7 linked regions of the Homo sapiens genome follow. The protein of the gene in region 2 purifies or fractionates together with the protein of the main gene of each other region. This does not show direct contact. Each region holds a gene or a part of one and is shown on either strand. Other genes may lie near its edges. The genes, in order: RAP1GDS1, RALB, OCIAD1, DBT, EI24, ANKRD13A and EMC2.

Evidence for each region.
Region 1: the proteins of RALB (region 2) and RAP1GDS1 purify together in Homo sapiens (co-immunoprecipitation; 2 studies listed by BioGRID and IntAct, with this or other methods). This does not show direct contact.
Region 3: the proteins of RALB (region 2) and OCIAD1 purify together in Homo sapiens (affinity purification with mass spectrometry; one large-scale study listed by BioGRID and IntAct). This does not show direct contact.
Region 4: the proteins of RALB (region 2) and DBT purify together in Homo sapiens (affinity purification with mass spectrometry; 2 studies listed by BioGRID and IntAct, with this or other methods). This does not show direct contact.
Region 5: the proteins of RALB (region 2) and EI24 purify together in Homo sapiens (affinity purification with mass spectrometry; one large-scale study listed by BioGRID and IntAct). This does not show direct contact.
Region 6: the proteins of RALB (region 2) and ANKRD13A purify together in Homo sapiens (affinity purification with mass spectrometry; 2 studies listed by BioGRID and IntAct, with this or other methods). This does not show direct contact.
Region 7: the proteins of RALB (region 2) and EMC2 purify together in Homo sapiens (affinity purification with mass spectrometry; one large-scale study listed by BioGRID and IntAct). This does not show direct contact.

The regions. Positions count from the first base shown.
Region 1 is NC_000004.12:98,411,259-98,415,418, forward strand, and holds part of RAP1GDS1 (rap1 GTPase-GDP dissociation stimulator 1), read left to right. Parts: intron 1-4,160. UniProt on the Homo sapiens protein: Acts as a GEF (guanine nucleotide exchange factor) for the Rho family of small GTP-binding proteins (G proteins) that stimulates the dissociation of GDP to enable subsequent binding of GTP.
Region 2 is NC_000002.12:120,255,455-120,259,614, reverse strand, and holds part of RALB (ras-related protein Ral-B), read right to left. Parts: intron 1-4,160. UniProt on the Homo sapiens protein: Multifunctional GTPase involved in a variety of cellular processes including gene expression, cell migration, cell proliferation, oncogenic transformation and membrane trafficking.
Region 3 is NC_000004.12:48,840,590-48,844,749, reverse strand, and holds part of OCIAD1 (OCIA domain-containing protein 1), read right to left. Parts: intron 2,115-4,160; coding exon 2,061-2,114; intron 1-2,060. UniProt on the Homo sapiens protein: Maintains stem cell potency. Increases STAT3 phosphorylation and controls ERK phosphorylation. May act as a scaffold, increasing STAT3 recruitment onto endosomes. Involved in integrin-mediated cancer cell adhesion and colony formation in ovarian cancer.
Region 4 is NC_000001.11:100,211,238-100,215,397, forward strand, and holds part of DBT (lipoamide acyltransferase component of branched-chain alpha-keto acid dehydrogenase complex, mitochondrial isoform 1 precursor), read right to left. Parts: intron 3,747-4,160; coding exon 3,580-3,746; intron 2,714-3,579; exon of another isoform or gene 1,986-2,713; intron 1-1,985. UniProt on the Homo sapiens protein: The branched-chain alpha-keto dehydrogenase complex catalyzes the overall conversion of alpha-keto acids to acyl-CoA and CO(2).
Region 5 is NC_000011.10:125,572,031-125,576,190, reverse strand, and holds part of EI24 (etoposide-induced protein 2.4 homolog), read right to left. Parts: intron 3,734-4,160; 5' UTR 3,664-3,733; coding exon 3,622-3,663; intron 2,736-3,621; exon of another isoform or gene 2,617-2,735; intron 929-2,616; coding exon 783-928; intron 1-782. UniProt on the Homo sapiens protein: Acts as a negative growth regulator via p53-mediated apoptosis pathway. Regulates formation of degradative autolysosomes during autophagy.
Region 6 is NC_000012.12:110,033,626-110,037,785, forward strand, and holds part of ANKRD13A (ankyrin repeat domain-containing protein 13A), read left to right. Parts: intron 1-171; coding exon 172-332; intron 333-2,635; coding exon 2,636-2,703; intron 2,704-3,733; coding exon 3,734-3,929; 3' UTR 3,930-4,160. UniProt on the Homo sapiens protein: Ubiquitin-binding protein that specifically recognizes and binds 'Lys-63'-linked ubiquitin. Does not bind 'Lys-48'-linked ubiquitin.
Region 7 is NC_000008.11:108,470,870-108,475,029, forward strand, and holds part of EMC2 (ER membrane protein complex subunit 2), read left to right. Parts: coding exon of another isoform or gene 1-114; exon of another isoform or gene 115-294; intron 295-4,160. UniProt on the Homo sapiens protein: Part of the endoplasmic reticulum membrane protein complex (EMC) that enables the energy-independent insertion into endoplasmic reticulum membranes of newly synthesized membrane proteins.

The sequences.
Region 1 (4,160 bases), on a different chromosome or scaffold from region 2:
ATTTGTTTTCAGGTATTTGATTTCAGTCAAATTGTGAGAAGAGATTATCTGTAAACTTTAACATTGAGACATTTAGGCTGGGAGTGATGGCTTACGCCTGTAATTCCAGCACTTTCAGAGGCCAAGGCAGAAGGATTGCTTGAGCCAGGAGTTCAAGACCAACCTGGGCAACACAGCAAGACCCTGTCTCAAAAAAAAAAATTAATTAAAATTTTAAAACTACAATATTGACACATTTAAAATTTCTTAAATGTCTTAGGTCCTATTTCTTAGGGAGAAATTTGTTTTTTATCTCATTGGTGTTTTGGCAAAGTAAAAATTTTACTGTGACCTTCAGTCAATTTTAGGCCATAAAATAACCTATAACTTTCCTTGCAGTATTTCAAAATAACAATGTGTTGATATTTATTACTGTTTTCCCCTCTGCCTTCACATCTGTTTTATAATTGCACAATGGATAGGATGATACCATTGAAGGCTTGTTTTTGGACTAATTCTTTGCATGTATCATCCTTCATTTTCCCAGTACACGAAGGAGAGTGATTTCAGCATTAGAAGTTGGGATTTGTATAGTTCAAGGATTTTAGTATTTTTAAGGCTTTTTCATCATAGTTTTTAATTCTAGTCACCACACATCTCTAGCCCTAGCATTCTGTAACCAAGGAAACGCCCTACTTTTAGCATGGCACAGTACAAGTGTACCTTTTAAAGAAATATTCCAGGTTGAATACTCTGTGTATTCTGAGATAATATTCAAAAGAAGATCAGTGATCCTAGTGATTCAAAAAAGCCAAATTTTAACACATTAAAATTGCCTGAAAGTCTTAAGTATTTATTTTTAAAAGTCTTTATTTTTCCTAAATGATAAGCTGAAGCTGCCATTGCCATATATGGATGCATATACAGCTTAGGGAAACCAATGACTAAAATAAAATCCAACTGAAAAAATAAAGTTTAAATTTAAAAATTTCTGGCCAGGTACAGTGGCTCATGCCTGTAATCCTAGCACTTTGGGAGGCCAAGGCAGGAAGATTGCTTGAGGCCATGAGTTCAAGACCAGCCTAGGCAACATAGTGAGACCCTGTCTCTACAAAAAAAGTTTAAAAATTAGCCAGGCATGGTGGCATGCACTTTTAGTCCCAGCTACTCAGGAGGCTGAGATAGGAGGATTGCTTGAGCCCAGGAGTTCAAGGATGCAGTGAGCTATGATCATACCACTGCGCTCCAGCCTGGGCAACGGAGCGAGACACTGTCTCTTAAACAAAAAATCTGTGTTGCAAATGTATTTTTCAGGTGAGTTGACTAGCATTTATCTTAAGGAGTATCAACTACACTCAAAGCATTTAGATAGGCCAGTTTAGGTTAAGATACAAAGATGAGTAAGGTGTATCTATTGGGGGAACCAGCCCCCAATATTTCAATGTATGTTCTATTTTCCCTAAATGTCGGCCCATCTGAGAAATAGAGAAAGAGTACAAAAAGAGGAATTCTACAGCTGGGCCTCCAGGGGTGACATCACATATCGGTAGGTCCGTGATGTCCCCTGAGCCACAAAACCAGGAAGTTTTTATTAGGGATTTCAAAAGGGGAGGGAGTGTACAGGGAGTAGGTCACAAAGATCACGTGCTTTACAGGGCAATAAAGATCACAAGGCAAGGGCAAAGCAAAGATCACAAGGCAAAGGGCAAAATTAGAATTACTGATGAGGGTCTATGTTTGGCTGTGCACGTATTATCTTGATAAACACCTTAAACAACAGAAAACAGCGTTCGAGAGCAGAGAACCGGTCTGACCTCAAACTTACCAGGGCGGGATCTTTTCCGCACCCTAATAAGCCTGAGGGTACTGCAGGAGACCAGGGCGTATTTCAGTCCTTATCTCAACCGCATAAGACAGATACTCCCAGAGCGGCCATTTATAGACCTCCCCCCAGGAATGCAATTCCTTCCCCAGGGTATTACTATTTTTTTTTTTATTATACTTTAAGTTTTAGGGTACATGTACACATTGTGCAGGTTAGTTACATATGTATACATGTGCCATGCTGGTGCGCTGCACCCACTAACTCGTCATCTAGCATTAGGTATATCTCCCAATGCTATCCCTCCCCGCTCCCCCCACCCCACCACAGTCCCCAGAGTGTGATATTCCCCTTCCAGTGTCCATGTGATCTCATCGTTCAATTCCCACCTATGAGTGAGAATATGCAGTGTTTGGTTTTTGTTCTTGCGATAGTTTACTGAGAATGATGATTTCCAATTTCATCCATGTCACTACAAAGGACATGAACTCATCATTTTTTATGGCTGCATAGTATTCCATGGTGTATATGTGCCACATTTTCTTAATCCAGTCTATCATTGTTGGACATTTGGGTTGGTTCCAAGTCTTTGCTATTGTGAATAATGCCGCAATAAACATACATGTGCATGTGTCTTTATAGCAGCATGATTTATAGTCATTTGGGTATATACCCAGTAATGGGATGGCTGGGTCAAATGGAATTTCTAGTTCTAGATCCCTGAGGAATCGCCACACTGACTTCCACAATGGTGGAACTAGTTTACAGTCCCACCAACAGTGTAAAAGTGTTCCTATTTCTCCACATCCTCTCCAGCACCTGTTGTTTCCTGACTTTTTAATGATTGCCATTCTAACTGGTGTGAGATGGTATCTCATGTGGTTTTGATTTGCATTTCTCTGATGGCCAGTGATGATGAGCATTTTTTCATGTGTTTTTTGGCTGCATAAATGTCTTCTTTTGAGAAGTGTGTGTTCATGTCCTTCGCCCACTTTTTGATGGGGTTGTTTTTTTCTTGTAAATTTGTTTGAGTTCATTGTAGATTCTGGATATTAGCCCTTTGTCAGATGAGTAGGTTGCGAAAATTTTCTCCCATTTTGTAGGTTGCCTGTTCACTCTGATGGTAGTTTCTTTTGCTGTGCAGAAGCTCTTTAGTTTAATTAGATCCCATTTGTCAATTTTGTCTTTTGTTGCCATTGCTTTTGGTGTTTTGGACATGAAGTCCTTGCCCATGCCTATGTCCTGAATGGTAATGCCTAGGTTTTCTTCTAGGGTTTTTATGGTTTTAGGTCTAACATTTAAATCTTTAATCCATCTTGAATTGATTTTTGTCTAAGGTGTAAGGAAGGGATCCAGTTTCAGCTTTCTACATATGGCTAGCCAGTTTTCCCAGCACCATTTATTAAGTAGGGAATCCTTTCCCCATTGCTTGTTTTTCTCAGGTTTGTCAAAGATCAGATAGTTGTAGATATGCGGCATTATTTCTGAGGGCTCTGTTCTGTTCCAATGATCTATATCTCTGTTTTGGTACCAGTACCATGCTGTTTTGGTTACTGTAGCCTTGTAGTATAGTTTGAAGTCAGGTAGTGTGATGCCTCCAGCTTTGTTCTTTTGGCTTAGGATTGACTTGGCGATGCGGGCTCTTTCTTGGTTCCATATGAACTTTAAAGTAGTTTTTTCCAATTCTGTGAAGAAAGTCATTGGTAGCTTTATGGGGATGGCATTGAATCTGTAAATTACCTTGGGTAGTATGGCCATTTTCACGATATTGATTCTTCCTACCCATGAGCATGGAATGTTCTTCCATTTGTTTGTATCCTCTTTTATTTCCTTGAGCAGTGGTTTGTAGTTCTCCTTGAAGAGGTCCTTCACATCCCTTGTAAGTTGGATTCCTAGGTATTTTATTCTCTTTGAAGCAATTGTGAATAGGAATTCACTCATGATTTGGCTCTCTGTTTGTCTGTTGTTGGTGTATAAGAATGCTTGTGATTTTTGTACATTGATTTTGTATTCCCCAGGGTATTATTAATATTCCTTGCTGAGAAAAGAATTCAGTGATATCTCTCCTACTTGCACATCCGTTTATAGGCTCTCTGCAAGAAGAAGAATATGGCTCTATTCTGCCTGACCCTGCAGGCAGTCAGACCTTTGGTTGTCTTCTCTTGTTCTGTAAAATCACTGTTATTCTGTTTGTTTTCAAGGTGCACTGATTTCATATTGTTCAAACACCCATGTTTTACAATCAGACTTCATATTTTTCAAGCACACATGTTCTACAATCAGTTTGTACAATAGTGATCCTGAGGTGATGTACATTCTCAGCTTACAAAGATAACAGGATTAAGAGATTAAAGTAAAG
Region 2 (4,160 bases):
ACCAATCAGCACCCTGTGTTTAGCTCAAGGTTTGTGAGTGCACCAATCGACACTCTGTATCTAGCTGCTCTGGTGAGGACGTGGAGAGTCTTTACGTCTAGCTCAGGGATTGTAAATACACCAATCAGCACCCTGTGTTTAGCTCAAGGTTTGTGAATGCACCAATTGACACTCTGTATCTAGCTGCTCTGGTGGGGCCCTGGAGAACCTGTGTGTGGAAACTCTGTATCTAACTAATCTGATGGGGACGTGGAGAACCTTTGTATCTAGCTCAGGGATTGTAAACGCACCAATCAGCGCCCTGACAAAACAGGCCATTCGGCTCTACCAATCAGCAGGATGTGGGTGGGGCCAGATAAGAGAATAAAAGCAGGCTGCCCGAGCCAGCATTGGCAACTCGCTGGGGTCCCTTTCTACGCTGTGGAAGCTTTGTTCTTTCACTCTTTGCAATAAATCTTGCTACTGCTCACTCTTTGGGTCCACGCTGCTTTTATGAGCTGTAACACTCACCGCGAAGATCTGCAGCTTCACTCCCGAGCCCAGCAAGACCACGAGCCCACCGGGAGGAACGAACAACTCCAGACGCGCTACCTTAAGAGCTGTAACACTCACCGCGAAGGTCTGCAGCTTCACTCCTGAGCCAGCGAGACCACGAACCCACCAGAAGGAAGAAACTCCGAACACATCTGAACATCAGAAGGGACAGACTCCAGACGTGCCACCTTAAGAGCTGTAACACTCACCGCGAGGGTCCGCGGCTTCATTCTTGAAGTCAGTGAGCCCAAGAACCCACCAATTCCGGACACGCTAGTATCCGTATCGTTACCAAAGCCAGGGACCTGGAAGTCATTTTTGACTCCCATTGCCTCTCCCCAGCTCAATTCATGACCATTTCTAGCTATTCCATCTCCAACATACATTTCAAAGCCATGCACTTCTTCCATCTTCTCTGCCACCATTCATTCAACAGCCCCAGCTTCCTAAGTGACCCCTCATTACCACTCCAGCCCCTCTTCAATCTGTTCTCCACACAGCCCTTCCAATGGGGCTTCTAACACTGCACATGAAACTGTGCTTAACGCTCCTTAAAGGCTCACCATGAGCGGCAGCTAAACCCTCCACTGGCCGTGGCCTCCGTGGCCTTTTCCTTGCCTTCTTCCAGCCCTGTGAATGTGCCAAGCGCTTTCCTACCTAGGACTCCTCCACACTCCCCCACCCCCAATCACGCGTGCCTGCACACACACACACTGCATTCAGGAAGGCCTGAAGCAAGAGGAAGCAAAGTCCACTCAAGAAACTCGAGAAAGACCTTCACAGCTATCTGCAGCAGAGAGAAAGAGGCAGAGCCCAGTACAAGATGACACTGAGGAGGTAAGGAAGGGCGGGATCATTCAAGACCCCAGTGTAGGCCAAGTTGAGGGATTTGGGACCTTTGACTGAAAGCACTGGAAAGCCACTGAAGTGTTTCAAGTCAATGGGTAACATAATTAGGCTTGAATGTTGAAAAGGTAATTCTGGCTACAGAGTAGAAAAACAGAGGGGTCAAGAGCAGATGTGGGTATGCACCAGGCCAGGCCGGCAACACGGTGGGGACTAAGGAGACAACAATGCACATGAGGAAAGTGACTAAATTTTAGGGCTACTTAGGATGTTAAAAAATGGCAGTGTTTACTACATGAACACATATAATTTGAGATTTTTAAAAGGTTTGCCATGCAAGTATTACTAGAGGTAACACATTGGCTAAAATTCATTCCTAACAATAGCATCAGCTATCAGCAGTAAAGGACTGGCCACCAATCCTTCCTGTGGGAGGAAGGAGGGGGATTACAAGGAAAGTAGAATGAAAGAAAAGAAAGATACTAGCTCATAAATTAGGGCAGAGGATGGGCAAGGGGCCAAAAATAGGAAGCAGAGGAAGTGCAAATAGTGCTGACTTTTCAACTCTGCCTAACAGTGACTCTAACAACCTTCAACTGGATTGGGAAGAACAAAAGCTATTCTCAGAAAAGCTTGTCTTCTGAGGTTGCAATTTAACATGATCAATGAAATATTTTGTTATAAATATGCACAACTCAAAGGATATTCGTTATAAAAAAAAAATAAGGATCATAGAATTTTCAGAGATGGAAGGGACTTAGAGGTCATTTAGCCAGGCTCAGGCTCAGGATCCAGAAACTCTTCTCTCCACCTATAGGCACTTCAGGAAGATTTCATCTGGAGCTAAAAGAATAGCGCCCTTCTATCCAGGTCAATAATTAAAATGTATGAGGGTCTCAAAAGTGAACTGAAGAACTGCTAGGCAAACAAGCAGTATCCAAAGTTTTAAAATAATGGGGAGGAGTAAGAGGGTTTAGGTTCCCCAAAATTTTTCAGCTACTTTGCCAATGAGTTTTATTTTTAAGAACACACAGATAATGAATGACTAATTTTAAGCCATTCATCAAAGGAGATTACTTTGGCAATATTTTTTTACCAACTTGTTTTGGGGTTAAAGAAAAAAATTCAGATGTTCCTTTTGGTTTAGGGACCAGCAAGATCTGAATTTCTATTTCCAAAGCTACTGCATACTTGGCTAATTCCAGCATCTAACAAAGAACCGGAAGAAAGAACATAAAAGTTTCACATATAGTATTAAAGCTTCTACAATACTAAAGACCTCAGCTGTCTTTCCATCTCCTACAGTATACTTCAGTAAACATCTGAAAGAAAGATTTTCTCAATGATGTCTGGACTAAACCTTAAAAAAGTTGTGGTGGCTAGCCTCCAAGAATACTGATGTGCCCTGACCTCCCCTCTTGTAGTCCTTTCCCACATTGTGCCAGGTCTGGTCTGAATGCTGGTAGAAGGGATGGTATGCCATCTCCAAGATTAGACACTGGATTAGTCTGTTCTCATGCTGCTATGAAGAAATATCCGAGACTGGGTAATTTATAAAGGAAAGGGGTTTAATTGACTCACAGTTCCGCAGGGCTGGGGAGGCCTCAGGAAACTTACAATCATGGCAGAAGGAACCACTTCACAGGGCAGCAGGAGAGAGAATGAGTGCCAGCAGGGGAAATGCCAGACGCTTGTAAAACCATCAGATCACGTGAGAACTCACTATCAGGAGAACAGTATGGGAGAAACTGCCCTCATGATTCAATTACCTCCCACCGAGTCCCTCCCACAACGTATGGGGATTATGGGGATTACAATTCAAGGTGAGATTTGGGTAGGGACACAGCCAAACCATATCAGCCACGAATATACTGCTGCTTCCATCTTGATCATTATCATATTCATTCTCTCCCTCTCTCCCCACCCCCGTCAGATCACTTGCTCTGGGGAGAAAAGCTATGTTGTGAAAAGCCCTGTGCATAGGCCCACATGGTGTAGAACTGAGGCCTCCAGCCAACAGCCATGTGAACGTGCCATTTTGGAAACAGATCCTCTGGTCCCAGTCGAGCTTCAGATGACTGCAACCTCAGGAGAGACCATGAGCCAGAAGCACCCAGCCAAGCTGTCCCCAGATTTCAACTTCAGAAACTGTGTGAGATCATAAATGTCTGTTGTTTTAAGCTGCTAAGTTTGGGGAAATTTGTTATGCAGCAACAGAAAACTCATTCAAAAGGTAGGCAAACTTTACAGGCAGCCAGGCACGCAGGACCAAACTACTATATTTCCTTCATCTCATGCCGTATAGCTTGGAACAATGCTATATATAAAAAATGCCCACAAAGCACTGACAAAAGCAACAATGAAAACAATATATTGGTAATTATCAATTAATGGCATTTTTCTTTTCTGCATTTAGATTTCAACTAAAAAACAACTAGCCACCATCACCAAAAACAAAAACAGCCAGGAGAACACTAAGGAAAATTATAAGCAGCTACTTTTTTTAAAGTGACAAACTTGAAATTGAGACCTGGCTAGAATTTTGCAATTGCTTCTAGTAAGCACATATACCGTCCCTCTTTGACACTCACTTCCACATCCTCTTCATCTTTCTTTCCACTGTCACCTATCCAAGACTCATCAACCCTCTTGCCTACTGGCCCCTCTGCTTTTTGGAATATCTAAGAATATATGTACACATACACCAATATTTATATTCCTAGGTACCAAAAGAACTGAGGAGCTAAAGGAGACAGCCCATGGTCAAATCTCCAAGGCCA
Region 3 (4,160 bases), on a different chromosome or scaffold from region 2:
GGGTCCTGGAACCAATCCACACAGACACAAAAGGACCACTGTACAAAATGTCAGGGATTTTGATTAAATGCAAAATGTCTTGGTGGATTCCAAATTCTTTTCTTAAAGTCTCTCTCAATTTTTACCTTTTTTTTGAGACAGAGTCTCGCTCTGTTGCCCAGGCTAGAGTGCAGTGGCGCCATCTCAGCTCACTGCAGCCTCCGCCACCTGGGTTCAAGCGATTCTCCTGCCTCAGTCTCCTGAGTAGCTGGGACTACAGGCACGCACGACCACGCCCGGCTAATTTTTTTGTATTTTTAGTAGAGATGGGGTTTTATCATGTTGGCCAGGACGGTCTCGATTTCCTAACCTTGTGATGCACCCGACTCGGCCTCCCAATATCACTTCTACCGTACCCTCAAGTAGCCCAAAGTCTTCAACTGCACCTAAACCCAAAATCTCTAAAAAACTTCCTCCTCTTCATAACCTAATCCAAATTATAATTTCTCCTGGCTCTACTTCAGCTATTTAATGGATTTTTCACTCCTCCCTGCATGATTTTGTCTCTTCAGTTCAGTCCTGATTGCCTCTCCCAATAGTTATGCCTATTTGTCTTCATCATCAGGTCCCTCCTTCCTGGTATGTTCTTTCTTCTCATTTAATCTAAATCCTGCCCATCCTTCAAAACCCACTTCTTTCAAGAAACTTTCCTTGATTACAACAGCCCTACAAAGATCTTTCTTCTTTGAACACCTACAACTCTTAGAGTCTCTACTATACAATTTAGTAGCTTATTAAGTATGTAATTAAATTTTCTATTTGCTTCAACATATGTTCACATCCATTTGTTTCCTCCAGTGAACTACTAGCAGCTATTAAATTCTTTTGTGTAACCTTCTGCATACCTAGCTCCAATCATTATTAAATGACACACTGGATTAAAATAGATAAAAGAAGCAGAACAATAATAAACACTGTAATTTCATCCCTGTGCCAGTTTTTCCTACAAAGAATGTAATTCAAGTGGGGTTTTTTTTGTTTTGTTGTTGTTGTTGTTGTTGTTTCACAATACAGAACCAATCTCAGTCTATAAAACAGCTTAGTCTTAAGGACATATAAGTGCATACATCTTGACTCGCTTCTATGTTTAAGATTTTTGTCATGGTACTGTATTGTAATGAAGTTCTTCAGAAGTTCCTTAAATAAATTTTTACCCCAAAAATCCTCTCATTTGCCTCCAAAACTACTTTTATCAACTAATTGTGTCAAAACTAAGTACCATACATCATATCCTAATGTGAAAAGGCTAAATCTTCCAATCATTAAGTCACATTTTTGAAGGAGCCAGTTAATTAAAACAATAGGCCTCCAGGCCATCCTAAGGTCACCATCCTTTTCTGGGACACCTTCCCATTACCAGATAGATAGTTCATGAAGTAAAGGAATTAAGCAACTCTACTGCTTACTCCACTACATTTTAAATGCAGGACTCAAGACATTTAATACTCAATCTAAACTCAATTCCACTACTGTACTATTTGAGCCAATAGACTTTAGGACAAGAAAGTCTCCTCGGTGGCTCGTTAAAAATAGATCACCTGCCAGACCCCTGAGATTCTGATTTTTTAAATAATGCTAACTCACCGCCACTCATCCGCCCCAGGTGATCAGACAAAGCTGGTTTAGAGAGCTACTGATCTTTAAATCATTATATAAGAATCACTTCGAATTTGTTAAAACACAGACTCCTGGTCCCCATGAATGTGCATTCTAACAAGCTCCTAGGCAATAATGTTGCTATTGGCCCACCTAGACCAGGTTTGCCCTGCTAATACTGGTGTTTAGTTACCTTCTTGCTCTTGCAGATTGTTAATGATGCTATTAGTGCAGGAGAAATTCTCAAGTCATGATATTTGAGCCAGTGGGTCCACAGAGATAAAACGTTTAAATTCATCAATGAATTTCTACATAGTGTTTAATATGATACATTGTTATCTTTACTTTTTCTAAAGACCTGGAAAATACCACAAAACAAACATGGTATCCAAAATGCTAAATAAATTCAAATTTTAAATATTTACCTTTACTAATTAATCCTTGAGTAATCAACATACTTGTTGCAGCCAAAGGCACAGCTATAGGAAGAAAAAGACCTTGTTAACATCAACAAAAGTAAAAGATTTTGTCTAAAGTTCATTAGATAAATGAATAGCAGTAAAACCATCTAGGAATTATATTGCATAACTAAGACCTTTAAAAAAGACTGTTCCATTTTTAAAAGCTGTACTGTATACATAGTGGAAAAATTAAAGGAGCATTTTAAATTTAAGAAAACATCACAAAATATTAAACAATATAATTCATGAACCATCTAGGCTTAGGTTCCAAATAGCCAGCTGTTCATCAACAGCATCAACTAAGACAACACAGTAAAAGTGACTCAAAATTACTTCTGAAGTAAGAGAAGGGGAAAAAGTTAATGAAGGAGAGGTAAGAAACAAGTTACAAGTAAGAACCACTACTGAGTAATGACTAAATTCTGTGCATCATGCTAAGCGCCTTATGTGCATTATCTCATTTATTATACTTTTTATCATATTTCTATAAGGTAGATAATGTTATTACCACCCTTTTAAAGATAAGGAAACTGAAGCTTAGAGATGTTAAGTAATTTGCTCAAGGCCAAACAACTAGTTGAATGGTTGGTTACAGATTCTAATAAAATCTGTCTGATACCAGATCTCAAGCTTTTAAGCTCTAGTATACCATCTAAACCAAAATACAAAACATATTTGACCGTAATCATACGGTGGCTGGGGCAAAAATTAAAAAGCACATATTTTAAACACTTATGTTCTTTCTTCTAAACTAGTGAACTCCTTAAACTATATGAAAATATTACATCTATATATATATATGCCTAAAACCGAGAGTGAAAAATCCAAAACTCATAATCTCAAAGGGGGCTATAACTTAAAAACAGCTATGAATCACTGTTCTTTACACCAGCACTGTCTAACAGAATTTTTTATGATAATGGAAGTTGGTCTTTGAGTGACCAACCCTGTGATCAATTTGGTCTTGGTACTTGACTGGTAAACAGTTCCCCCCATTGATATGCGTAATTGGCTCACTGTGCCCAAACTGTTTGTACAAATACAGTTCATGCCAAACATCTGCTTTCATTCTAGGAGTCTGGAATTTTGGTACCTGTTAGGCAGAGGGTGAATAAGTGACCAGCCCCCAATAAAAACTGTGGGCACTGAGTCTCTAATGAGTTCCCCGGGTAGATACAACTTCACACATTGTTATGACTAGCTGTTGGAGAAATTTACACTCCCTGGGAAGAGAACTCTTGGGACCTGGTTTCCGCCGGACTTCACCCCATGCTCCCTTTCCTTTTATGATTTTGCTTTATATCCTTTCACTGCAAGTTATTTTAAAGTTAAATTGCTACATGTGACTACTGGCTGCCACACTGGACAGTGCTGTTCCAGACCTGAGGTTGGCAAACACGTTCTATGAAGAGCCAGATGGTAAATATTTTGGGTTTTGTGGGCCAATCTCTGTCCCAGTTACTCAATTGCCGTTTTAAAGCAAAAGCACCGAAAGACAATCCAAAAACACATGAACGTAGCTGTGTTCCAACAAAACTTTATTTTTAGATGCAAACATATGAATTTCATGTAATTTCACACGTAATGAAATATTCTTTTCCTTTGATTTCTTAACCATTTTATCTTATTTTATGTTTTTAGACAAAGTCTCACTCTATCACCAAGGCTGGAATGCAGTGGTACAATCTCATCTCACTGCAGCCTCAACCTGCCGGCTCAGATGATCCTCCTGCTTCAGCCTCCCAAGTGGTTGGGACTACAGGCATGCACCGCCATGCCTGGCTAATTTTTTGTCTTTTTTCTTTTTTTTTTTTTTTTTTGTAGAGATGAGGTTTCGCCAAGTTGCCCAGGCTGGTCTCGATCTCCTTGGTTCAAGTAATCAGCCCACCTCAGCCTCCCAAAGTGCTGGGATTACAGGCGTGAGCCACTGCACCCAGCCTCTTAACCATTTAAAAATGTAAAAACAATTCTTAGCTCATGCATACAAAAACAGATTTGGTCCATGGGCTAGTTTGTTCAACTCTGGTCTAAACCATATATGGACAATTTAAGAACCAAAGTAAT
Region 4 (4,160 bases), on a different chromosome or scaffold from region 2:
CTTGGCCAGCTGAAGGGCAGAGATGTCCTGAACATTTACTTTACAGCTCAAGTCTCACTGAATAGCATTTATATTTTCCCTCTCTGCTGCCTTCTCCCTTTTGTCACTTAATACCATTTCTCTCCTGTCCATATTCAGATTTCCCTAACTGTACCCAAAATGTTCTTGATAATCTGTTTTTGGGATCTAATAATCAAGTTTCATACCTTACATGTGGTGGCCATGCATTGTATTGAATTTAAAAGATAGCAAAATAAAAATGCTTAAGATCATTCTTAAAAAGAATTCCCTCCCCCACTGCCCTTGTCTGGTCCCTGTTAAAGTTCTTTACATGCATTGTGTTATTCTTCTCAGTGCATCGGGGTCTTGATGGGAAAAAAATCAAATTCTTGAACTAGAGAGTTAAGAAAAAAGTTTAAATATATAGAGACATTTCATTTTCATTAGTTAGGACAGGTTAAGAGAGTAGATCAACTGAAGAAAAATATAATTAAAAGAACTGCTACGAGTTCCTTAATTTTTATGACTTGGAAGTTTTTCTTGTTTGTTTTTGAGACAGGGTCTTTCTTTGTCACCTAGGCTGCAGTGCAGTGGCATGATCTCAGCTCACTGTAGCCTCAACGTCCTTGGCTCGAGTGACCCTCCTGCCTCAGCCTCCCGAGTAGCTGGAACTATAGGCGTGTGCCACCATGCCCAGGTAACTTTTGTATTTTTTGTAGAGATGGGGTTTCACCATGTTGCCCAGGCTGGTCTTGAACTCCTGAGCTCAAGCAATCTGCCTGCCTTGGCCTCCTAAAGTGTTGGGATTACAGTCGTGAGACACTGCGCCCAGCCAACTTGAAAGTTTTAGTAAGCATTTGATTCAATAACTGTAATTTTAATAGTCTTTATCTAAAAACCCCTAAGGTTAGTCTAAACTGTTACATATAAAAATATTTGAGTATAATCCAAATTTTGTCCAAGAAAATACAAGGTATGTGTCAATGGATTAGGTCATTTGTTCCCCCTCTACAATACTGTGTAGTATTTTTTCGAATGTTCTGAAACTTATGTTTTATTTTAAAACAAAATAGCCAGGCATGCTGGCTCATCCCTGTAAGACCAGCCTGGGCAGCACTGCGAGACACATCTCTACTAAGAATAAAAAAAAATTAGCCAGGTGTGGTGGTGCACACCTGTGGTTCCAGCTTCTCGGGAGGCTGAGGCAGAGGATCACTTGAACCCAGGAGTTCAAGGTTGCAGTGAGCTGTGATTGTGCCACTGCACTCCAGCAGCCTGGGCAACAAAGTGAACCCTTTCTAAAAAAAAAAAGAAGAAAGAAAGAAAAAGGGAGATAAAGAAGAATAGTTTCTGCCTCATGAGGCTCAGCGCCCAGTAAGTGAGTAAGTGAAGAGAAAACTGAGTAAGCACTCAATGCACTGAGATAAGTTAACAGTGGGAAACAAAAGTATTTAATTCAAATAGTGACAGCCACAGAAGGAGTCTGTACCTGACCACAGTTTGGGATTTGCAGGTGTTTGATCGAGAAGAACGGGCACTTCAGGTGGAATTGTGTATTCCAGCAATTATGGGTACCTTAATATGAGGGAGTGAGGTAAGAATGGAGAGGCAGGCAGCAGAGACTTATAACACATTTGTATGCCACACTAAGGAGTATGGCATACAAATTATCCTGAAGGTAATGAAAGGGAACCACTGAAAAGAATCAGAGAATATTACAGTAATTTGATTTACGGAAGACCAGTCTTGGTGCAGTGTAGAGAAAGGACTGGACATGTTGGCATTACAGACATCAGTATGTCCTTCTGAGTAAAACAGACCAGAACCTGAAAGAGCTTCTCCACCTGTTAGCTGTAAGTCCTTAACAAGTTTCTCAACCTCTCTGAGCCCCAATTTCCTTAAATGGAAAGTGGAGACAGTAATATTTACATGTCAGGGTTACTCTGAGAATTAAGAGATAATGGGCCCTGCCCCGCGTCTGCCTCAGAGGGGCCCGAGCCACCCGGGGCGTGCGCCGCGTCCCCGCCGGGGCCGACAGAGCCGAGCCGGGCCGCCATGGACCACAAGACTCTGCTGCAGGAGCGGCCGCCCGCCTACAACCTGGAGGCCGGCCAGGGCGACTACGCGTGAGGCCCGCACGGCTACGGCGCCATCCCCGCCGCGCCCCCGCAGCCGCCCTACTCCTACCTCGTCACACGGACACCCACCCACCATCCCAGGGTCTACAACATCCACAGCTGGACCGTCATCCGCTATCCTACCAACTCTATCGTGGTCGTGGGAGGCTGTCCCGTCTGCAGGGTCGGGGGGCTGCAGGACTGCTTCACCTTCCTGGGCATCTTCCTGGCCATCATCCTGTTCCCCTTTGGGTTCATTTGCTGTTTTGCCTTGAGGGAGCGAAGATGCCCCAACTGTGGAGCCACCTTCGCTTAAAGGGAACACCAGGCTCGGCCTTTCCTACACCCAGCTCTCTTTTTCTAATGTAAATGTTGTGTTCAATAGTTTTATTTGATTAAGCTTCAGGACTGTTTTGTAAAGCGAGGTGGGACCGATGTGGCACACGCCAGCTGCGGTTTCCCGGAGCGTGGAGAGGCAGCGCTGCTGCTCCTGCCCCAGGCTCATGACAACTCAATGAAGCACTGCTTTTATTTTTTGCAGTCTTCAATTTGAGAAAGGTGAGAAATAATCTTTTCAATAAATGAGATTCATACCAAAAAAAAAAAAAAAAAAGAGAGAGATAATGTATACAGCATGCTTACTATGGAGGCTGGCACATGGTAGCTGCTGCACAGTCACTAATGTGAGCTAGACTGTATGCTGCTCAAGGTTAGCTGATGGTCTTACTCCATTTTATACTGGTCCCAAGGCTTAGCACTAGAAATGATTCCCAGGATCCTCAATATAAGTTGGTTGAGTAAATGAAAATAAATATTAAATATATGTCAGTGATATTGCAAAATTAATATCAAGTCTCATTTTAGTTCAAACCAAGACTTGGTTGGAGTGATCCTTTTAGGATCAGAGGCTTTACTTAACTGGCAGAATTGTCTCTACCTAGCTCAAAGATAAGCAGCTAAAAATATAGTACAGAAATCTCAATTTTATAATTTCCTATTGAACAAAGAAATGGCACATTTTCTAACTATCTGATGTTGCGAAAAGTAATATTTTTATTCAAGGCCACAGTCAACATATTGCATGTTGGCAAAGCAAAATTTAAATGTCCTACTTGGGGCCAGGTATGGTGGCTCACGCCTGGAATTCCAGCACTTTGGGAGGCTGGGGCGGGGGTGGATCACCTGAGGTCAGGAGTTCAAGACCAGCCTGACCAACATGGCGAAACCACGTGTCTACTAAAAATACAAAATTAGCCAGGCGTGGTGGCAGGTGCCTGTATTCCCAGCTACTCAGGAGGCTAAGGCAAGAGAATTGTTTAAACCCGGAAGGTGGAGGTTGCAGTGAGCCGAGATTGTGCCATTGCACTCCAGCCTGGGTGACAAGAGCAAAACTCTGTCTCAAAAAGACAAACAAACAAATAAATGTCCTACTCAAGCCTTGTTTGAAATGAATGAATCTCACCTTTAAGAAGAAAGGCATAAAGGAGAGTTTAATTCCACGAGCAAATGCAATGGGTTTTAATTCTTCTCGGAGCTTAACCAGTTCAGTAAGGTCAATCTCATCACAATAACCAAAATGAGGTATCTTCAGGGCTGCAGACATAGTCTTGACCATTGCTTTTTGAAAGCCTGAAAAGCATTAAATTGTTATTCATTTATTTAAATTCTCAAATCTCTTCATCCTTTTTTTTTTTTTTAAAGAAACTAAAATGGAAGGTTCTCTAATGTCTTTTACTCTCTCAGTTAAACCCTTCCTCTTACTACTCTCTTCATTACATTACACTGAAAGTCACTAATTTCAAAGCTGGAACACTGACTGCATCATGACACTCAGTGGCAAATGCAATAACATAGCAGGTAACTGCTTTAAATGCTGTGTTATATAAAAAATTCAAAAGAATGCAAGCCATGTATTTCCCTAACAGCTTTCCTGCAAAGCCACTCTTCTGGAAGTTAATCATTCCAGGAGTTTATAAATAACAAATCAGAACTAGTTATTTTGAAAGCTAACTACAAATAGTGAATGTTTAAAATGTCCTGTGT
Region 5 (4,160 bases), on a different chromosome or scaffold from region 2:
TTCATTTTATATCTTATCTTTTGTGGGTACTGTATTATTTTTCAGTGCCTCATGTTCTCCCAATGTTCTAATGTCAGTCAATGAGAAAAGACTAAAAAAATGGTCAAGCGCAGTGGCTCACGGCTGTAATCCTAACACTTTGGGAGGCCGTGGTAGGCGATCAACTGAGGTCAGGAGTTCGAGACCAGCCTGGCCAACATGGCAAAACCCTGTCTCCACTAAAGAATATAAAAAATTAGCCAGGCGTGGTGGTGCGCACCTGTACTTCCAGCCAGCCGGTTCGCTGAGGCAGAAGAATTGCTTGGACCTGGGAGGCAGAGGCTGCAGTAAGCTGAGATTGCACCACGGCAATCTCAGGTGACAGCTTGGTGACAGGGCAAGAATCCGTCTCAAAAAAAAAAAAAAATGTGTATATATATGGAACCAGCTTTTAAAAGAAAAATAATTTATTTTCTAAAGTCTGATGATGGAAAAGATTAAGAGAAAGTGTGGGGCCAGGGTTCTTCTATTAATACATAAATCCACACAGGCTTCCCTAGAAGTATCTATCAAACCAAATAATATTTTGCGATTCTCTATTCAGCTTTCTGATTTAACACCATGACATTTTTAGCAAGGATTATTGTTAGACCCTAGTTTAAGTCAATGTTGTTGGGGGGAAATCACTTGCAACATTTTTCTGGGAAAAAGCACAAAAGAAATAAAATGGCACTGAAACATCAAGTCACTATGTAAGGTCTTCCCTCCCTTGGACATTTTGATATCAGGCATGCACTCCTTACCTCTCTTGCTTCCGCTCTATACTCTGGGCTCTTCTCTGTGCCAAGACACTACTTGCCCTTCTTCGACGCTGCTCCTCTCTCTTTTGCTGGATTCGAGCATCTAGCTTTGAGATGGTACAAATACCCCAGATGGAGTCTTTGATTCCCTATAGAAAAGGCTATCATTATTATTATTATTATTTGAGACAGGGTCTTGCTTTGTCACCCAAGCTACAGTGCAGTGACTCAATCATAGCTCACTGCAGCCTCCAACTCCTGGGTTCAAATGATCCTCCTGCCTCAGCCTCCCAAAGAGCTATGAGTACAGATGTGCACCACCACACCTGGCTTTTAAATTTTTCTTCTGTAGCGATGGGGATCTCACCATGTTGATCAGGCTGGTTTCATACTCCTGTCCTCAAGCAATCCTCCTGCCTAAGCCTCCCAAAGGCTAAGAATTCACTCATGCATCCATCTCCCACCCACGTACTGAGTATCTTCAATAAGCTATATATTGTCATATAGAAATGCTCAAGAAGCTTATAACTTAGTAGGAAAAGCACACAAGTAAACCAAAAAATTACATTAAAGGTTTTTTTTTAAAAAAGTTTTTAAATATGAAACATTTCATGAATTTGTGTGTCATGCACAGGAGCCATGGTAATCTCTGTATTGTTCCAATTTTAGTACATGTGCTGCAGAAGCAAGCACACATAGTTTAGTAAGTGCCACAACAGATGTATGGCCCAAGTAGAGTGTTAGCACTGGGGCATTCAACTTCATGAGAAGGCAGAAAAAATTATTCTGGAAGCAATGGCCAAGCTGGATTTAAGAATGGATAGCATTCTCGTCTACTGTTATCAGACAAAACGAATTTTAGAAATAATAGCTGGAATACAGAGAAATGGGCAAGTTGATGTATTATCTGTTAACAGGAACATAAATTGGCACAGTGTGCCTTTGATCTTTTTTTGTCTGAGTAATTTTTACTCTTAATTTTGCTTTTAACTCAGGAAACTCCAACTATCTAAGATAGTTAAGTTCAAATGGCTGAGGGCCTAGTACATGCTAGGATGATAGGATCCCCACCTCTAAGACATCTACAGTCCAGTGGGGCAGACAAACATGTAAATAGCACACTGTAGAACCAACACAGGGTTGAATTTTTTTTTTTTTTTAAACAGAGTCTTACTCTGTCGCCCAGGCTGGAGTGCAGTGGCATGATCTTGGCTCATTGCAACCTCTACCTCCCAGGTTCAAACGATTCTCCTGCCTCAGCCTCCTGAGTAGCTGGGATTATAGGCATGTGCACCACGCCTGGCTAAATCTTTTTTGTATTTTTAGTAGAGAGGGGGTTTTGCTGTGTTAGCCAGGCTGGGAGGGTTGAAATTTTACAGCACATGAATGGCAAGACAACAAGGTAAAGATGTTAAAAGTAGATCATATGCTGCTGGGCACGGTGGCTCATGCCTGTAATCCTAGCACTTTGGGAGGCTAAGGTGGGCAGATCACCTGAGGTCAGGAGTTCAAGACCAGCCTGGCCAACATGGTGAAACTCCGTCTCTACTAAAAATATAAAAATTAGCCAGGCGTGGTGGTGTGTGCTTGTAATCCCAGCTACCTGGGAGGTTGAGGCAGGAGAATCACTGGAACCCAAGAAGTGGAGGTTGCAGTGAGCCGAGATTGCACCACTGCCCTCCAGCCTGGGCGACACAGTGAGACTCTGTCAAAAAAAAAAAAAAAAAAAAAAGGAGATCATATGCATAAAGTCTTTTTAGACCTTCTAAGATACTCTTTCAATCCTCCCTCTTTTACTCAAAAGTAATAACCTTTTTACTTTCTTGCCCTGCTATAGTGCACTGGTACCATCATAGTTCACTACTGCTTCATACTCCCAGACTCAAGCAATCCTGCCTCCTTGGTCTCCCAAAGTGCTGAGATTACAGCTGTGAGCCACCTCCCCTGGCCATAAAGGTAACCTTTTAAACTCTTCCACTAAAGAAAGAACCTCCCCACTCCAAGAATTGGCCTCTTTCATGCTAGTGGAAATATAAGAGGGGGTTACAAGTGAGACATTATTAGGCTTCAGACATACATTAAAAGTAGCAGACTTTTGTGCTATTGGTAATTTGGATGACTGGGTCCTAACCAGATCTTTATAGGGCATTTTCCTAGAGTATCCTCCTCACGTGCACAGCTTGTAGAATGGGGAGAAAAAAGGTTCTGGCAGGTGCAGTGGCTCACTCCTATAATCCCGGCACTTTGGGAGGACAAGGCGGGTGGATCACTTGAGCCCAGGAGTTTGAGACCAGCCTGGGCAACATGCCAAAACTTCGTCTCTACTTTTAACAGAAAAATTTTTAAATAAATGAAAAATTGGGAAAAAAAAAAGATAGGTTCTCTAATTTAAATCTGAATTAATTAGTTTAGGTGATAGTACTGAACCAATGTTCATTTCTTAGTTGACAAATATACCACGGTTATATGTTAACATTAAGGGAAGCTGATGAAGGACATACAGGAACTCTCTGTACTACCTTATAACTTTTCTGTAAATCTAAACACATTCCAAAATAAAAAGTTAAAAAAAAAAAAAAAAAAAGCTCTGAAGCCAAGATGATTAGGGTCCCAATACTGGAGACATCCACCGAAGAGGTCTTCCAAGCACCTGCAAGACTGTCTGCAAGATGTAGAACAATACCTATTTCTTGAGTAGTGTGGTCTAGAATAACAACCTTTATGTAAAGAACCCAAGAAATATGATAAAAGTTCCAAAAACCCTAAAGGATTTCCTAGATGGTTCCTTCAGCAAAAAAAAAAAAGGCCGAGAGATGAATTCCTATAAACAAGATGTACTCACTCTGGCAAGGTCCTGGAGAAAGGTTTTGACACTGTCAGCCATCTCTTCACCACCAAACTATCAACTACACACAGGAGAGAGAAGTGTCCCCAAATCTCTCATCATGAAGGATCTGGAAACAGATGGAACATAATGGAGGCAAATATTTATTTTAAAGATAAGTTACTTCATGCACATTTCCACATGATGACCTCACATACTTGTAGCTCTAGTAAGATAGCAGTAGATTCTAGCACTAATAGAGTGAATCAAGTGAAGCTATTCCTGTACAGCTGAAACCTAAAATCCCTATTTTTTTTCTAAAACACTCACCACCCTTTCATTTTTACAAGGGGTTTTACATTTTACACCCTCTCATTTTTACATTTTACATTTTTACAATGTGCTCTTGACCAGTAACCTCCTCTGAGCCTCAATGCCCCTAACTATCCCTCCTACACATTCTAAGCACTTTTGAGGGTTTGGAGATGGAAGATAATTACATTTCAATATCTTCTTAAGCAATTTTTATGTTTGCTGGATACCTTCAAATACTTGAA
Region 6 (4,160 bases), on a different chromosome or scaffold from region 2:
GTATTCTGTCACTTTTTTCTGTCATGCTTCCTCAGAATCTCTCATATAATAGTAAGCCTTGATTGTTATAATTTTGAGCCTTTCTTTTTTTTCTAATGTACAACATTTTTGCAAAAAGTTGGAGTGGAAATGTAATGAACTCAGACACTGGACGGTTGCCTTTTGTTTCAGCTTCCCACATCACAAACTTTGAGGTTGATCAATCTGTGTTTGAAATTCCCGAATCTTACTATGTTCAAGACAATGGCAGAAATGTGCATTTGCAAGATGAAGATTACGAGATAATGCAGTTTGCCATCCAGCAAAGTCTGCTGGAGTCCAGCAGGAGCCAGGTGTGTTTATCAGAATACTCTAATGGCAGGGCGTGGGAGGTCTTACCCTCTGGGTTAGCCTCAGTGTTTGGCTAATCTGAAAGATTTATTCTAAATATCAAGTTTGACACATTCATGGTATTTGCATAGGTTATACTTTGTGCATCTGGTCTTCTTACAAAAGCTTGTTATGTAAGAGACCATCTACATAATCCCAGTCAGCACCATTCACAAGATGTCTTCAGGCAGACTTTCCTTTTCCTCATATTCACGCACATAGCTTGTAATTCTGTACTTTTTGAGATGTGCTTCATCATTTTCTAGCACTGAAGCAGTATCATATTTTTCCTGAAGGATTACCTGTGTGTCAGTAGTCTCGGATGAAGGTAGTGAAGTGGATTTGAATCCCACTTCCTCCACAAAGGGTACCATCTCCCTAAACTCTCTCTGGGTCTCTAGTGAAACAGAAAATGAAGGACAGGACAGACCTGTGTAAGCAGTAGGCTTTGTGTGTGTGTGTGTGACTCTATGTTGCCCAAGTCGGAGTGCAGTGGCTGTTCCCCGGCATGATCATATTGCACCCTCAAACTCCTGGGTTCAAGAGATCCTCCCACCTCAGCCTCCCAAGTAGCTGGGACTAAAGTCATGCACCACTGTGCCCAGTAGAACAGTTGCCTTTTATTGTCATATCTGGTTCTCCCTCCATGCCTCACCTACCTGGGACAGTCCAAGGCTTGAGGTCCTCCTCCCCTAACATCAACTCCTTCCATCTCCTTCCTTCTGTGCCTCCTGGCTCTACTAGGGTAGGGTCTGGTCTGCCTCCAGCACCCTCTGGTGTGTCCTGGGTTCCTGCAGTCCATTTATTTGTTAATTGGCTTTTTCTTCCATTCTTCATTCAGATATTTGCAGAGTACCTTCTTTGTGCCAGGCTCTGTGCCAGGTGCTGGGAATTCTCTGGGAAGCAGCCCCTGCCCTCACAGGGCTGCTGCTTTGAGAACAGTGCTCACACTCCAGCGTCCTCACTGGTTCAAGCTTATAGCTTTCTGGTTCTATTCCTGAGTCTTAGTGCTTGTGTAATGTGAGTCTACCTCCTCCACTTCCCCCTGCCACCACCATGGCCCCATTCCCAGACCCATTCAGTTTTCCGAGCCAGACCCCAAAGCAAGCATGTTCCCTTTGGGAGGCATCCTGGGAGAAGACCCCTGCACATCACCATCAGCCTGGTATGCTTTTCCTTTCCCTATGTAAGTGAGCTTAGCTCCCCCCGCCAGCTCCCAAGTAGCTTCATAAACCTTGTTGACCATAAGTTTTAACAAGGGAAGTAGCCAAAGTCAAAGACTACCAGTATTGAATTGTGTCTTCTAATCTTGCCCTAGAAGAATTACTGGCTGGGTGCAGTGGCTCATGCCTATAATCCCAGCACTTTGGGAAGCCAAGATGGGAGGACTGATTGAGCCCAGGAGTCTGAGACCAGCCTGGGCAACATAGTGAGATCCTATATCTACCAAATTTTTTTTTTTTTTTAATTTTTGAGGCAGAGTCTCACTCTTTTGCTCAGGCTGCAGTGCAGGGGCACAATATTGGCTCACTGCAGCCTCTGCCTCCCAGGTTCAAGTGATTCTCATGCCTCACCCTCCCGAGTAGCTGGGATTACAGGTGCGCACCACCAGACCCAGCTAGTTTTTGTGTTTTTAGTAGAGACGGGGTTTTACCATGTTGTCCAGGCTGATCCCAAACTCCAGACCTCAAGTGATCCACCAGCCTTGCCCTCCCAAAGTGCTGGGATTAGAGGTGTGAGCCACCATGCCTAGCCTCTACCAAAAAATTTTAAAAGCCAAGTATGGTGGTGTGCACCTGTATTCCCAACTAGTCAGGAGGCTTAGGTGGGAGGATTTCTTGTGCCCTGGGGTCAAGGCTGCAGTGAGCTACGATCACATCACTACCCTTGAGCCTGGACAACAGAGTGCGACCCTGTCTCTAAAAAAACAAAAACCTGCTTTGGTCACTTGAACTTTGCCCAAGGTCAGCTGTGTTTTTGCTTTTCGTTGTGTATATCTTCCACGTGGGTTAGCTGTATTTAAGAGACTGATTTTGTACAAAGGATGAGAAGGTTGTGGCTGTGAGTTAGGCTGTGGCATGTTACTACCTCCCACTTAGGTGTTGTTTTTGAGGTAACCCAAGTCCCTGTTAGCTTTTCACACAGCACTATTGATAATGGTCATGGAAAGACTTTTAATTTGGTTCTTGCTGCCATCGTTTCCTTACCAGAATGGCACCAATTTCTCCTAAGACGTATTCATGTCTATCACATTTGTCTTTGCCAGGAACTTTCAGGACCAGCTTCGAATGGAGGGATCAGCCAGACAAACACCTATGACGCCCAGTATGAGAGGTGATTGACTGACGTGACTCTGGAATAAACCAGGGTGAACACAGGCCTGGACACAGGCGAGCAGACGCGTGGCACTGTGCATTTGGTCCTCAGGCAGATGTACGGTGCCACAAACTGGCAGGAAAGACTAGAAAAAGTAGGCCAGGAGCGGTGGCTCACGCCTATAATCCCAGCATTTTGGGAGGCCGAGGCAGGCGGATCACGAGGTCAGAAGATTGAGACCATCCTGGCTAACACGGTGAAACCCTGTCTCTCCTAAAAAAAATACAAAAAATTAGCCGGGCATGGTGCCAGGCACCTGTAGTCTCAGCTACTCGGGAGGCTGAGGCAGGAGAATGGCAAACCCAGGAGGCGGAGCTTGCAGTGAGCCGAGATCGCGCCACTGCACTCCAGCCTGGGCGATAGAGCGAGACTCCGTCTCAAAAAAAAAAAAGACTAAAGTGTTGGCTCTCTTGCTTCCTCTTGTGGCAGTTACTTATAATAACTCTAGACTCTTGATAGCAAGTTTCCAGGAATGGGTGATAGAATTGCTGACTGGTTCACAGGTCAGTGCCATTGGGGGAAACGTACTGAGTCAGTTTTTTCTGATTGGTTTGATCTTCTATGAATGATGTATGATCACAGGGCCTAGATGTCCTCAGTGGGAAGTTTATATAATTGTAAAGATAAGGAAGTTTGGAGGAACAGCTCCAGAGATTACGGGAAAAACCGCGAGGATTCATTTTACGAAGACTTATACTTAAGGTGTCTATGAGAGCCTGTTGATGAAGAACCTGAGTTTTGCTTTAAAACAGATCCAAGTTCAATTCCCAGCCCTATCACTTACTGGTTGGGTGGTCTTGGGCAAGATTGTGGGGTTTCTCACCCGTATACAACACCTACACCGCCAGTTATGTGGGATTAATTGGCATCATGCATATTAAATGCCTGGCACAGTGTGCCCTTGGTAAGCGGTTAAGAAATGTAGTTACTGCTGCCACCATGATGATGATAGTAGTGACTCTCCCTTTTTATCTGTTTTCCAACCCAGGGCCATCCAGGAGAGCCTCCTCACCAGCACAGAAGGCCTGTGCCCCAGCGCCCTGAGCGAGACAAGCCGTTTTGATAATGACTTGCAGCTAGCCATGGAGCTCTCTGCCAAAGAGCTGGAGGAATGGGAGCTCCGGCTCCAGGAGGAAGAGGCTGAGCTCCAGCAAGTCTTACAGCTGTCACTCACTGACAAATAGACCTTTCAGCCTGTGAGCCTCTGCACAAAGCAGAGGCTGTGGGCTGTCACAGATGCTGTGTCAACCAGGGCCCTAGGGCTAAGGGCCTGCACCTTGCGTGCATGCAGCAGGCAACAACTGCCCCTTCTTTATGCAGAGGTGCAGAACCAGGGACTCCTGGGCCCATCCAGGCTGCTCCCTGGGGTGGAGAAGGGACCAGGGATTGCAGGCCCCATCTCCAGGCTAAGGGGA
Region 7 (4,160 bases), on a different chromosome or scaffold from region 2:
CATGCGCATTTTCTTGTGCATGAATATTTAACCTTGTTCTCATACTACAAACAACTGATGAGAAACAGAATGAAGACATTTGTCTATTGTCTGTGGTCTATATATATAATGTGATCTAGAGGATTGAGGTAGTCTATTTGCATAAGTCTAAGGAAAGTGGGAGCTAAAATAAAAGTAATAGCTGTAATTTAATGAATGTATACTATATTCTAGGAACTGTTTTTCAAGTTCTCTGCTATACTCTGAAACAGATATTCTGGTTTTGATTAGGAAATTATTTCCTGAATCACATTCAGTATAGATGATATGCTTGTATGTACACATATGTAAACATACTCATGATTTCTTACACATGTGAAACAGTATATAATACTTATATTTAAATACATGAAATTGAATTTTTAGAGTATAGTAAAAATAATTAGCATTAATTTTATTTTGTTTCTAAAACAGGTGACAGTCATTTAACATTTTTTGTACTTTCTAAAGATTTTCTGACTAAAAGCATTTTAAAACATTTCAAATCAACAAGGAAATTTTTTTTTTCAAGTTAAAGGAATACCTAATGCAGAAAATTTGAGAAACACAGTAAAGCATAAAGACCAAGACAAAAATTACATGTAATTCCAGCATCCTAAGTTAACTATAGTTTGTTTGGTTTTTGTCCTTCCTTATCTTTTAAAATAAAAGCCCAAAATAAAATTATCTTCCGTAGTTTATACTTTCCCTTAGTTATATTTTGTTCAAAAATTTCTTGTCACTGTAACAATCTACAGTGTGTTTTGAATGGCTTTATATTATTTCATCTTACTAATTTACCCTAGTATTTTTAACGAGTTTCCTAGGGAGATATAAAGGTTGTTTTATATTTTTATATATAATGCTGTAGTGATCATTTTTATTTTGTTTCCTTGGGTTAAATTCTTTGAAGTAAAATTGCTTGATTAAATAAGATGTACATTTTCTGTGGTTTTGATAAATAGTTCCTGATTGTTCCCTAGAATGGTAACATCAATTTACTTGCACACCAGCATTTACTAGAGTCCCTCTTTAACAACACTGGATACTATGATTCTTTTTTAATCTTTACAAGTTTGATAGGTGAAATTGGTTCTACCTTTTTAGTTCATTTTTACGAGCTCTTTTTATAAAGGAGAGCAACCATTTGTCAAAAGTATATCCTTGTTATATGCTTTTTAAATACTGACTTCTTAAAATTATAGAAACTTTACATTTTTAGAAAATCAGATTCATCAATTTTTAACATTATCATGTCTGCTGTCCTTTAATAGCTTAAAAATATATCACCTTTTCCCCCTACTTCATTTGCAATTTTATTTTTTTGCATGTATTTCTAATATTTATTTCATCATCAAATTTAGGTTATACCTTATTTTTAACCTACCATTAAATTTACTTATTTTTTTCACCATGTGGTACCACCTTCAGTTTTGCTTTGTTTGGAATCTAAAGAGTTTATTGAAACAGAGGTGAATGTACACTTAAGAGAAATGAACTGAGAAATCTCAAAAAATGAAGATTTACAAAGATGTAGGAGCACCTAAAAATATTTTTTTAGAGAAAATGATAATTATGGTCAGCCTACCCTTTTATCTAGTATCACAAAACTCTTTTTGGTCTTAAAGCTAGTTAGTTACAAAATGACCATTTTTTTTTTCTAATTGAACACTTAGAAGGAATATTTATGTTTAGGTGACTGGAAATGCATATCTACAGGTTTTTTTGAAACTGTGAAAATTACAATCAGTTCACTTGATTCATTTGACATGTTTGAGCAAGTCATTATAGGAGGCAGGAATTTTTTGATGGAATGTTAAATTATCGTAGGATATCAGTTTTAGCACCAGTCTTGGGGACACAGTGGCAAAAACGTAGCAGTTTCGAAAATGTCAGATATATTTAACATTCGATATTCCTTTCTGCATATGAACAGTTGTAAGCTTTTTTAAGTATAATAGGTCGCAGGCAGCTTTGGTAGCCTATATCTAGAACTATTTTTTTTCTTTAAGAGACAGAGTCTACAACATTTCCCAGGCTAGACTTGAGCTCCTGGGCTAAAGTACTCTTCCCACCTCAGCCTTTTGTGTAGCTGGCACTACAGGTGTGTCACTGTGCCCAGCTCTGGAATTTTTAAACTCCAAATAAATATCTATAGTATAATTTTCATATAGCCCTATTTAATGTTTCTATAGAGAGAAAAAGGGATATAGAATTGTGCCATGTAACCTTTTTATATTTTTAAGTTACTTTTATAAGTTTGTTTCTGATTTATAGTTTGTTTTTAGTTATTCCAGGGATATATGTTACATCCATTGACCATATTGAGACACTTGTTCTAAAGTTTTAAAACTACAGTTAATTTTTTTGTGTCAGCACTACCAATATGTATTATAGGTTAAGTATCCATAACCTGAAAATCTGAAATCCACAATACTCCAAAATCTGAAACTTTGAGTGCCAACATGATGCTCAAAGGAAATGCTCATTGGAGCATTTTGGATTTGGGATTTTTGCGTTAGGGATGTTCAACCAGTAAGAATGCAGATATTTTAAAATCTGAAAACTTCTGAAATCTGAAACATTTCTGGTCCCAAGCATTTTGGTTAAGGGATACCCAACCTTTGTAAGCAAAAATACATTCACATTATGAAAGACAAATTTTTTTACTTCATTTGTTATTGAAACTAGATACTATACAGCAAGGAACAGTTAGTATTATACATTAATTATGATTGTGATTATAGTTCCTTTTCATAAGTCCAGCCTTTTAAAATTCCATATCAACGGAATTACCACAATTCTTTAAGGAAAAATTGTGATGTTGGTAAAGTAACACACAGTACCAAATACTGTAACCTTTAGTTATATATACTTTTGTAAGGAAGAGAAGAAAACTTTATTTAGTTCTAGTACTGACTCTAATATTGTAATAACAATTGTTATTCTGTTTTAAGTAGATTCAAATTATTTTTACTTCTCTATTCTTAGTCTTGTTGAGTCACTGTGTGTAATGAATTAACTTCTCTATGCACCTAGAATAGTACTGGCTATGTATTATCCCTGACAAGACTGAGGAAATAGTCACTTTCTGCGTGGCCTAACAATGGCCTAGAAAAGCTGGACTAGACCATCTGTTGAGCTCCTTCTAGCTCTAATTTTATTTAATTCTATATTTTATCCACAAAATTAGTTTGATACTGTACTTTATAAAATTGGGGGAAGGAGTCCTTTTCTCATATGTGATGCTAATTGATTTTTGAGAAAATATCTTGGTATTCATTTTACCCTAAGAGCTGCTACTACCTGCCCATTTTATCTTGCTTTATGCACCAGTGTCACAGTTGTGCTCAACCCATTTAAATGTCTAAGAACTTTTATTCTTAGTCTCAATATGAATTTTTGGCATCATACTATTAATAATTAAAGGAACACATTTAGAAGAGAACTGTCTTTTGATAAAGTGTTTAAGGTAGAGACAAATTTTCCCTTTTCTTTTCGAGTGATAAATATATATTAGGTAGGTAGTCATAACACATTTGTTTTAGACATTTATTCAATCATTTGTTCAGTCTTATTAAATACCTATCATGTGTCAAGAACCAATGCTAGGTTTTGAATTTAAAAATGGAAAGGGCTAAATAGCTGCATGATCTTGGATGAGAGTACACACACACACACACACACACATACATATATATATGTGGTCCTTCATAAATCTAAAATGCTGTAATTATTAGGTAATCTGCAGGGTGTATTTTTTTTCCTCAGTCCCTTTGGGTGTGACTGCTGTACACATTTTCATGTTACCATTGACATCTTCAGTTTTTCAATGTGATGTGTAATGCATATAAGCAGCATATGTAGTGGTTGAAGAGTACAGGCTGTCTGGAGTGGCACAGCCTGGGATTCAGTTTACATCTCTGTGCCTCAGTATTCTCAGCTCTAGCATGTTGATAATAATTTCCTTCTTCCTAGGGTTTTGGTAGGATTAAATGAGTTAATACATGTAACACATTTAGAACAATGCATGACACGTAATAAGCATTTAGTAAAAGCTATTATTAGTATACATGTGTGAAACAGGAAAATAATTTTTAAAAGTATATCAGGCAGTAGTGTAAAGGTAGATCCCTTTGTAT